Linked DNA regions of Homo sapiens: region 1 is reported to be linked to region 2. Evidence: microRNA targets listed by miRTarBase, many of them from high-throughput screens and not tested one by one. Region 2 holds a microRNA gene; the other region holds the end of a gene's coding sequence.
Evidence for each region. Region 2 holds the annotated microRNA hsa-miR-3908 (GAGCAAUGUAGGUAGACUGUUU, at 1,686-1,707, shown strand). A microRNA usually pairs through its seed, bases 2 to 8, with sites in the 3' UTR of a target mRNA and lowers its output. Matches are read on the target gene's strand: a 7mer-m8 pairs with bases 2 to 8, a 7mer-A1 pairs with bases 2 to 7 and ends in A, and an 8mer does both.

Region 1: miRTarBase lists RBM7 as a target of hsa-miR-3908. Seed matches in the 3' UTR shown: 7mer-m8 at 1,479-1,485.

The regions. Positions count from the first base shown.
Region 1 is chr11:114,406,809-114,411,874 of GRCh38, forward strand. It overlaps RBM7 (RNA binding motif protein 7), which reads left to right. Exons shown (of 5, transcript NM_001286045.2): 5 at 637-3,799. The coding sequence ends at 999. Among named protein-coding and RNA genes, the nearest start is that of RBM7, 8.7 kb to the left of the region's middle.
Region 2 is chr12:123,534,728-123,539,802 of GRCh38, forward strand. It overlaps MIR3908 (microRNA 3908), which reads left to right and starts at 1,682; the gene lies at 1,682-1,807.

The sequences.
Region 1 (5,066 bases), not on the chromosome of region 2:
ATCACGAGGTCAGGAGTTCGAGACCAGCCTGGCCAAGATGGTGAAACCCCGTCTCTACTAAAAATACAAAAATTAGCCGGGCGTGGTGGCACAGGCCTGTAGTCCCAGCTACTTGGGAGGCTGAGGCAGGAGAATCGCTTGAACCCGGGAGGTGGAGCTTGCAGTGAGCCGAGATCTGTAACCTGTCTCAAAGAATTACTTGGTATTCTATGAACCTGTTCTGTGTTTCCCTGTTATTTTTGTTTGTGCAATTTCCTTTTCTTGGCATATCTCTCCCTTAAAATATGAAAATATTCCATCCATTGTTTTAATACCCAGATCATATGCCACCTTCATGAAACCTTTCCTAATGATACTGATCTCCTGATTCTTTGTTTTTTACACAGTGATTTTGCATTATAGTCATTTTGTGTGACTTATTCTGAGTTGCATTCTTGAGGACAAAGAGTAGTATTTATGTATATATATGTATCTTGTAGGTATACATTGGAATGATTGAAGCTATTGTACTGCTTTAGTTGTGGATCCATCTAGGCAAGAGTGACTTTATTTTCTTTCATTTTCTGTTAACTGACCAAATACATATTAGCTTTGATATCTAGAAGTATTAACATTTCCACTTTTCCTATTCCTCAGATGAACAGTGCTTTGAGACAAATGTCATATGGTGGAAAATTTGGTTCTTCACCTCTGGATCAATCAGGATTTTCACCATCAGTTCAATCACACAGTCATAGTTTCAATCAGTCTTCAAGCTCCCAGTGGCGCCAAGGTACACCATCATCACAGCGTAAAGTCAGAATGAATTCTTATCCCTACCTAGCAGATAGACATTATAGCCGGGAACAGCGTTACACTGATCATGGGTCTGACCATCATTACAGAGGAAAGAGAGATGATTTCTTCTATGAAGACAGGAATCATGATGACTGGAGCCATGACTATGATAACAGAAGAGACAGTAGTAGAGATGGAAAATGGCGCTCATCTCGACACTAACACATGTTAAAAGGACATTGTTTTTATAGGGTCATTTTAGGCCCTTTGACTAAGTTGATATGGAAATATTTTGTTGAAAAACTGTACAGAGCAGCTTTACAAGTTGTCACATTTCTTTATAAATTTTTTTAAAGCTACAGTTTAATACAAAATGAATTGCGGTTTTATTACATTAATAACCTTTCACCTCAGGGTTTTATGAAGAGGAAAGGGTTTTATGCAAAAGAAAGTGCTACAATTCCTAATCATTTTAGACACTTTAGGAGGGGGTGAAGTTGTATGATAAAGCAGATATTTTAATTATTTGTTATCTTTTTGTATTGCAAGAAATTTCTTGCTAGTGAATCAAGAAAACATCCAGGTTGACAGTCTAAAATGGCTACTGGTATTTTAGTTAATTCAAAAATGAAACTTTTCAGTGATTCACTTTACTAACATTCTATTTGAGAAGGCTTATTGGTAAAGTTTGGGGATAAAGGCATTGCTTAACTTCTTATATAATTTAGGTATAAATTCTGTGACATGCTCTTGAGCTTTACCCTAGTTGAACATACATGTGTAGATTTACACATACTGTTTCATTCTAAAATTTAGAAATTGTTCATTAAATCCCATTTGAGGTATAAGTCACTCAGGAAGTTAAAATATCTCTACACGTATATTTTTACATTAAAAATACAGTGTTAGCATAAATCCCCTTTTCAGGAAGAACAAAAATGTCAGTGCATAGTTAGATAAAATGGTAAAATGTTTTACTGAAAGCATACTTTTTTGGAAAATAGATTCATGAAGCCTTTAAGTGCTGCTTCTGTCAGTCAAACGTTAAAAACTTTAACATTTTCAAAGTGCCCAGACTGTGTACAAAGACACATGTAATGGAGATTGTACAGGTTGTTTTTTTGTTTGAACCTTTGAAAGAGTTTAATCTTAACGTTTTCTAATTTTAAAATTTTAAAATCTTGTTTAACAAAAGCTTGTATTAAGATACTGTTTTCATTTCATTACAGAATTGTTTATAAAAGTTCATTTGTTGAAAAATAAGGATCCTTTTTAATACCACAGCATTTGTACTGTTCCTTTTTAATATACTGAAAATATAAAAGGAAGGGTGTGTGTTATTTTTTTTTTTTTATGTCACTGACTTCAGAGACATTGTACACAAAGAATTAACATACTTTTATTCACTGATTGCCTGCTGTTTAGAATATCAGTTCTTTAATTTTGAGCATCCTGAAATACATCTTTTGTACATATAGAGCATGATGTTTCACAATCAGATTTTCAGTGACCCCTCGATTATAGCTTGGAGTACTTTAGTTACCCTCAGTGGTCTCTAGGAGTTAAAGTACACTTAGATTTCCTGTTTATAAATGAATTCAGTTTTTCTGTTTCTAAGTAAATGTAGCTATTCAACTACTCACTATAGAATTAAGATAAACAATTTGTTTGCTTAAGCATTTTCACAGAATTTGTTTCCAATGAGATTATTATTTTTGGGTATCTTATCCATATGAAAACTTAGTAGGTTTGTAGATGTTAACGAAGATTAATACTGCATGTTTGTTTTTGTTTTTTTTTTGAGACAGAGTCTTGCTACGACACCCAGGCTAGAGTGCAATGGCGGGATCTCAGGTCACTGCAACCTCCATATCCCGGGTTCAAGTGATTCTCCTGCCTTAGCCTCCCGAGTAGCTGGGATTACAGGCACCCACCACCACGCCTGGCTAGTTTTTGTATTTTTAGTAGAGATGGGGTTTCACCACATTGGCCAGGCTGGTCTCAAACTCCTGACCTCAAGTGATCCACCTACCTTGGCCTACCGAGGTGCTGGAATTACAGGTGTGAGCCACCGCGCCTGGCCTAATACTGCTTTATTACAACGTTATCTGTGGGTCGGATCCTTTTATATTGGTTAACAGATGACCCTGACTCAGAATAATCTTTTTCAATGGCTTTTTGAGGGAAGCTTGTGAAGTTCTGGTGAATCTTCTTTTTCACTTCACTTTCAGTGAGCTGAAAGTAACCAAACTAAATACATGTATTGTGTAAAGGGACAGGACAAGACAGCCTTAAAAAATTGAATATAGTTGGTGAGACAACTCAGAAGTACAGGTTTGAGCATCCCTTATTCAAAATGCTTGAGAAGTGTTTTGGGTTCTGGAATATTTGCATTAATGCTTGCCAGTTGAGCATCCCAGGTCCGGAAATCCACAGTGCTCCAATGAGCCTTTCCCCTGAGTGTCACATCTGTATTGGCACTCAAAAAGTTTCATATTTTGGAGCATTTCAGATTTCAGATTTGGGATGCTTCATCTATATTGACAGCTGCAAGAACAGAAAGGAAGAAGAGATTATTTTTGTGGGAGAACAGTTTCTCCCATAGTGTTTCCTGTGGAATGCTAGTGTCTCATAAAGTCTTCTAAAAAAAAGAAAAAAAAAATCAAATGTTTGGAAGCCATTTTGTGTTACTGTGTGACTTTCTTTTACTCAAAAACAGCACCATAAAATTTCTGACAAGTACTATAGGTAAAGAAATCCCTTTATACTTAACCTAGTATTTTCTACCTTTCCCCATCTAAAATAAAATTTTTATACCACTTTCTAATTATGTTGTGTGTGCCCACTTTCCCCATACCTACTGCTACCATCTTAGAGTAGGCAATTTTCTCAAGAGGATTATTCCAAGAACACCCTAATGTTTTCCTGCTTCCAGTCTTCTTTCCTCAAATTTATTCCACACTCTTAAGAATTGAAGATGTAAATCTGTCACTCGCCTGAATAAAGCTTCAGTGGCCTCTGACTTAAGTACAAAATTCTCAACTTAATATGACCCCTATTTGGCATGTGCTACTTCAGTCTCCTCTGATGACTTCCCCACTTTAGTTCTCATAGTAACTGCCCTTCACTGCTCAATCTATGCATTACTTCCTCTAGAAAGCCTTTCCAGAGCTCTGAAATCCAGATTCAGTGCCAAGTTATGTATTCCCCAAATATCTTTTTCTTTTATCATAGCCTTTAGACTGTATTATAATTTTCTTTTTACTTGTCTGTCTCTGTAGACAGCTCTATGAAGACAGACCTTATCTTATTCATCACTGCATTCCCAGGATCCAGTGCCTGGCATATATTTAACAGTGAAACTTTTTGATGAAAGGAAGAACGTCTGTTAATTGAATAAGGAAAAGGAGGATTCAACACATAAAACTTTGAATAGGCTCTCTAAACCTAAAACATTGCATCCTGAGAATTACATGTCACAGTACATGTATTCTAGAATTCTATTTGTTCATTTTGTCAAACTTCAAAAAGTTTTGGATCTGTATTCATGAATAATGTGTGACTTTGTTTTTATTTTATTTTAATTTATTTATGGCAGAGCCTCACTCTGTCACCCAGGCTGGAGTAGAGTGGCACAATCTCAGCTCACTGCTACCTCCGCCTCCTGGGTTCCAGTGATTCTCTCACCTCAGCCTCCCGAGTAGCTGGAATTACAGGCACCCACCACCACGCCTGGCTAATTTTTGTATTTGTAATAGAGACGGGTTTTCCCCATGTTGGCCATGCTGGTCTTGAACTCCCAACCTCAGGTGATCTGCCTGACTCGGCCTCCCAAAGTGCTGGGATTACAGGCATGAGTCACTGTACCAGCCTGATTTTGTTTTTTAATTGTATTATCTTAGTTTGGTTTAGGAGTATGGTTCTGCTAGCCTTATAAAATAAATTGGCAAGCTTATCATCTTCTATGCCCCCCCCCAAATTTGAATAATAAAGGAATTAGCCGTTTCTGCAAGATGTGTTGAACTCATTTATACAACTATCTGGGTTTGCTTTGGAAATAGCTCTTTGATTGCTTTATCAATTTCCTTTAGAGTTATCTTTTCAGGTTTGCTACTTTCTCAGGAAACAATTTGGATAATTTATACTTTTCAAGAAAATCAACCATTCCCTTTTTCTGAATATATTGCTATAGAGTTGTACATAGTATTTCTTATAATTTTTGTAAAACTCCTAATATTGTCAATAGTGCAGTTTTAGTTTCTGACGATATATTTTACCTTCCCTCTCAT
Region 2 (5,075 bases):
AGTTTTCACCGTGTGGTTGCAGGTAGGTTTCCACCGTCAGATCTTGGCTCCTTGAGGGAAGAAATCTTAATGCCCTTGTAGCCATAAAGCGCACCCCAACGTGGCACGTATTGATTAAAAATCTAAAAGTTGGCCGGGCGCGGTGGCTCACGCCTGTAATCCCAGCACTTTGGGAGACTGAGGTGGACGAGGTCAGGAGTTCAAGACCAGCCTAGCCAAGGTGGTGAAACCCCGTCTCTACTAAAAATACAAAAATTAGCCGGGCATGGTGGCGCATGCCTGTAATCCCAGCTACTCAGGAGGCTGAGGCAGAGAGTTGCTTAAACCCGGGAGGCGGAGGTTGCAGCAAGCCGAAATCGCGCCACTGCACTGCAGGCTGGGTGACAGAGCAAGACTCCATCTCAAAATAATAATATAATACAATAAATAAATAAATAAATAGTAAAAAAAAAAAAATTAAGGCCAGGCGGGGTGGCTCACGCCTGTAATCCCAGCACTTTGGGAGGCCGAGGTGGGAAAATTTCTAGAGCTCAGGAGTTCGAGACCAGCCTGGCCAACATGGTGAAACCACGCCTCTACTAAAAATACAAAAATTAGCCAGACATGGTGGCATGTGCCTGTAATCCCAGCTACTCAAGAGGCTGAGGCGCGAGAATCATTTGAGCCTGGGAGGCAGAGGTTGCAGTGAGCCAAGATCGTGCCACTGCACTCCAGCTTGGGCAACAAGAGCGAAACTCCGTCTCAAAAAAAAAAAAGAAAAAAAAAAAAGTAAAATAAAAAAATTAGCCAGACGTGGTGGTGAGAGCCTGTAGTCCCAGGTATTTGGGAGGCTGAGGTGGGAAGATCCCTTGAGCCTGGGAGGCAGAGGTTGCAGTGAGTTGAGATCACACCACTATGCTCCAAACTGGGCGACAGAGCGAAACTCTGTCTCAGAAAAATAAAAAATAAAAATAAATACTCCTGGCCACAGTGGCTCATGCTTGTAATCCTAGCACTTTGGGAGGCCAGGGCTGGAGGATCACTTGAGCCCAAGATTTCGAGACCAGCCTGGGCAGCATGGCAAAACCCCGTCTCTATTTAAAAAAAAGTCTGGTTGCAGTGACTTATGCCTGTAATCCCAGCACTTTGGGAGGCCAAGGGGGGCAGATCAGTTGAGGTCAGGAGTTCAAGATCAGCCTGGCCAACATGGTGAAACCTCATCTCTACTAAAAATACAAAAAAAAAAAAAAATTAGCCAGGCGTGGTGGCAGGCGCCTGTAATCCCAGCTACTCAGGAGGCTGAGGCAGGAGGATCACTTGAACCCGGGAGGCAGAGGTTGCAGTGAGCTGAGATCGAGATCGTGCCACTGCACTCCAGCCTGGGTGACAAAGCGAGACTCTGTCTCAAAATAAATAAATAAATAAATTAATTAATTAATTAAATAAAAATTACCCGACTCTGGTGGCAAGTGCCTGTAGTCCCAGCTACTCGGGAGACTGAGGTGGAAGGATGACTTGAGTCCCAGGGAGCAGAGGTTGCAGTGAGCTGTGATTACACCACTGCACTCCAACCTGGGTGACATAGGGAGACCCTGTCTCAAAAACAACAAAAAAACTCATACGTTATCTAGCACGGTGGCGTGAGCCTGTAGTTCCAGCTACTCCAGTGGGAGGATCCCTTGAGTTCAAGAGTTCTAGTCTAGCCTGAGCAATGTAGGTAGACTGTTTCTAAAAAAATAAAAAGTTAAAAAAATTTATGTTAACGTGTAATGTGTTTACTAATTTTTTTTTTTTTTTTTGGAGACAGAGTCTCCCTCTGTCGCCAGGCTAGAGTGCAGTGGCTCGATCTCAGCTCGCTGCAGCTTCGACCTCCCAGGTTCAAGCAATTTCCCTGCCTCAGCCCCCAAGTAGCTAGGATTACAGGCGCATGCCACCATGCCTGGCCGATTTTTTTGTATTTTTAGTAGAGAGGGGGTTTCACCATGTTAGCCAGACTGATCTCGAACTCCTGACCTCAGGCAATCTGCCTGCCTCAGCCTCCCAAAGTGCTGGGATTACAGGCATAAGCCATCCTCCCGGACTATTTTTTAATTAATATTTTTTAAAGCATCAGTTTAAATTTCTTTTCTTTTCTTTTCTTTTTCTTCTTCTTCCCTTCCCTCCCCTCCCCTCCCCTTTCTTTCTTCCTTTCCTTTCCTTTCCTTTCTCTTTCTTTCTTTCTTTCTTTCTTTCTTTCTTTCTTTCTTTCCTTTCTCTCTCTTTCTCTCTCCCTCCCTCCCTCCCTCCCTCCCTCCCTCCCTCCCTCTCTCTCTCTTTCTTTCTTTCTTTCTTTTCAGGGTCTAGTTCTGTTGCCCAAGGTAGTGCAGTGGTGCGATCGTAGCTCACTGCAGCCTCAAACTCCTGGGCTCAAGCGGTCCTCCCACTTCAGCCTCCTGAGTTAGCTGGGATTATAAATTTCTATTTACAGTAGATATGAGCAGATATAACTCACCTAACAAAAGCTCTTTCAAGGCTAGACACAGTGGCTTACGCCTGTAATCCTAGCACTTTGGGAGGCTGAGGTGGGCGGATCACCTCAGATCGGGAGTTTGAGACCAGCCTGCCCAACATGGTGAAATCCTGTCTCTACTAAAAATATAAAAATTAGCCGGTGTGTGGCCCGTGCCTGTAATACGAGCTACTAGGGAGGCTGAGGCACGAGAATTCCTTGAACTCAGGAGACGGAGGTTGCAGTGAGCCAAGGTCATGCCTCTTCACTCCAGCCTGGGCAACAGAGTGAGACTCTGTCTCAAAAAAACAAACAAAAAAAAACAAAAACAAACAAACAAACAAAAACTCTTTAAATATTGTTTTAGTGTAAAGGGGCTCTGAGGCCAAAAAGTTTCAGAACTTCTGCCTTATAACATCCTAAGAGGTAAATTTTATTATCTTATTTTACAAATGAGGAAACTGAGGCACAGAGAGGTTAAAAGGCTCACCCAAAGCCAGGCAGCTGGTGAAGGTAAATTCAGGGTCAGACCTGCGCAGTCTGGCCTCGAGTCTGTGCCATAACCTTCTCATCCTTGTTCCTTACACGTGCTAAGCACTCTAAACCTTCTGGATCCTTCCAACAACCCAAATGAAGCTGACATATTATTGCTGTCCCCTTTCTTTTCTTTTTTCTTTTATTGAGACGGATTCTCGCTCTGTCACCCAGGCTGGAGTGCGGTGGCAAAATCTCAGCTCACTTCAATCTCTGCCTCCCAGGTTCAAGCAATTCTCCTGCCTCAGCCTCCTTAGTAGCTGGGACTACAGGCACCTGACACCATGCCCAGCTAATTTTTGTATTTTTAGTAGATACAAAGGTTCACCATGTTGGCCAGGCTGGTCTCGAACTCCTGACCTCAGGTGATCCACCCACGTTGGCCTCCCAAAGTGCTGGGATTACAGTGTGAGCCACTGTGCCTGGCCAGTGCTGTCCCCTTTTTCTTCTTCTTCTTTTTTTTTTTTTTTTTTTTTTGAGATTGAGTCTAGCTGTGTTGTCAGGCTGGAGTGCAGTGGCGTGATCTCGGCTCACTGCAGCCTCTGCCTCCAGGGTTCAAGCGATTCTCCTGCCTCAGCCTCCCAAGTAGCTGGGACTACAGGCATGTGCCACTACACTTGGCTAATTTTTGTATTTTTAGTAGAGATGGGGTTTCATCATGTTGGCCAGGATGGTCTCGATCTCTTGACCTCGTGATCTGCCCCCCTCGGCCTCCCAAAGTGCTGGGATTACAGGTGTGAGCCACGCCTGGCCTTGCTGTCCACTTTCTAAGTTAAAGACAGGGAGGCAGGGAAAGGTGTGCTGATTTCCTGTAGCTACTATAACGAATTGCCACAAACTTGGTGACTTGAAACAAAACTAGCTGGGCATAGTGGCTCACGCCTGTAATCCCAACACTTTCGGAGGTGGAAGAGGGAGGATCACTTGAGCCCAGGAGTTGGAGACCAGCCTGGGCAGTGTAGTGAGACTCGATCTCTATAAAAAAAGTTTTTAGGTCAGGTGTGGTGGCTCAGTCCTATAATCCCAGCACTTTGGGAGGCCAAGGCAGGTGGATTGCTTGAGCTCAGGAGTTGGACACCAGCCTGGGCAACATGGAGAAACCCCATCTCTACAAAAAATACAAAAATTTAGCTGGGCATGGTGGCATGTGCCTGTAGCCCCAGTTACTTAGGGGGCTGAGACAGGAGGATTGCTTGAACCTGGGAGGTCAAAGCTGCAGTGAGCCACAATCCTGCCACTGCACTCAAGCCTGGGGGACAAAGTGAGACCCTGTCTCAAAAAAAAAAAACAAACAAAAAAACACATTGTTTTAAATTAGCCAGGTGTGCTGGTGTTCACCTGTAGTCCTAGCTACTTGGGAGGCTGAGGTGGGAGGACTGCTTGAGCCTGGGAGGTCGAGGCTGCAGTGAGCCATGATCGCACCACTGCCCTGCAGCCTGGGCAACAGAGTGAGATGCTGTACCAAACAACAACAACAACAACAAAAACCCAAAACAAAAAACAAAAACCCAGAAACGTATTCTCTCACAGTTCTGGAGTCCAGAAGTCCTAAATCAAAGCATTAGAACTACCACGTTCCCTCCGAAGGCGCCAGGGGAGGACCCTTCCTTGCCTCTTCCAGCTTCTCGTGCCTCTAGGTGTTTCCTGGCTTGCAGCCGCATCACTCAATTCTCTGCCTGTTTGCTTTCTTTTTGTTTTTGAGACAGGGTCTCCCTCTGTCGCCCAGGCTAGAGTGCAGTGGTGCCGTCTCAGCTCATTGCAGCTTCGAACTCCTAGGTTCAAGCGACCCCCTTGCCTCAATCTCCCAAGTAACTGGGACTACACGCACATGCCACCACACCCAGCTAATTTTTGTGTTTTTGTAGAGATGGGTTCTTGCCATGTTGCCCAGACTTCTCCTGCCTGTTTTCACATTTCCTTTGCTCTGTGTGTCTTCTCCTCTGTGTCTCATATAAGGACACGTGTCATTGGATTTAGGTTCCACACAGATAATCCAAGATGATCCCCTCATCTGGAGATCCTTAATTTAATCACATCTACAAAGACACTTTTTTTTTTTTTCAAATTAAGTCTC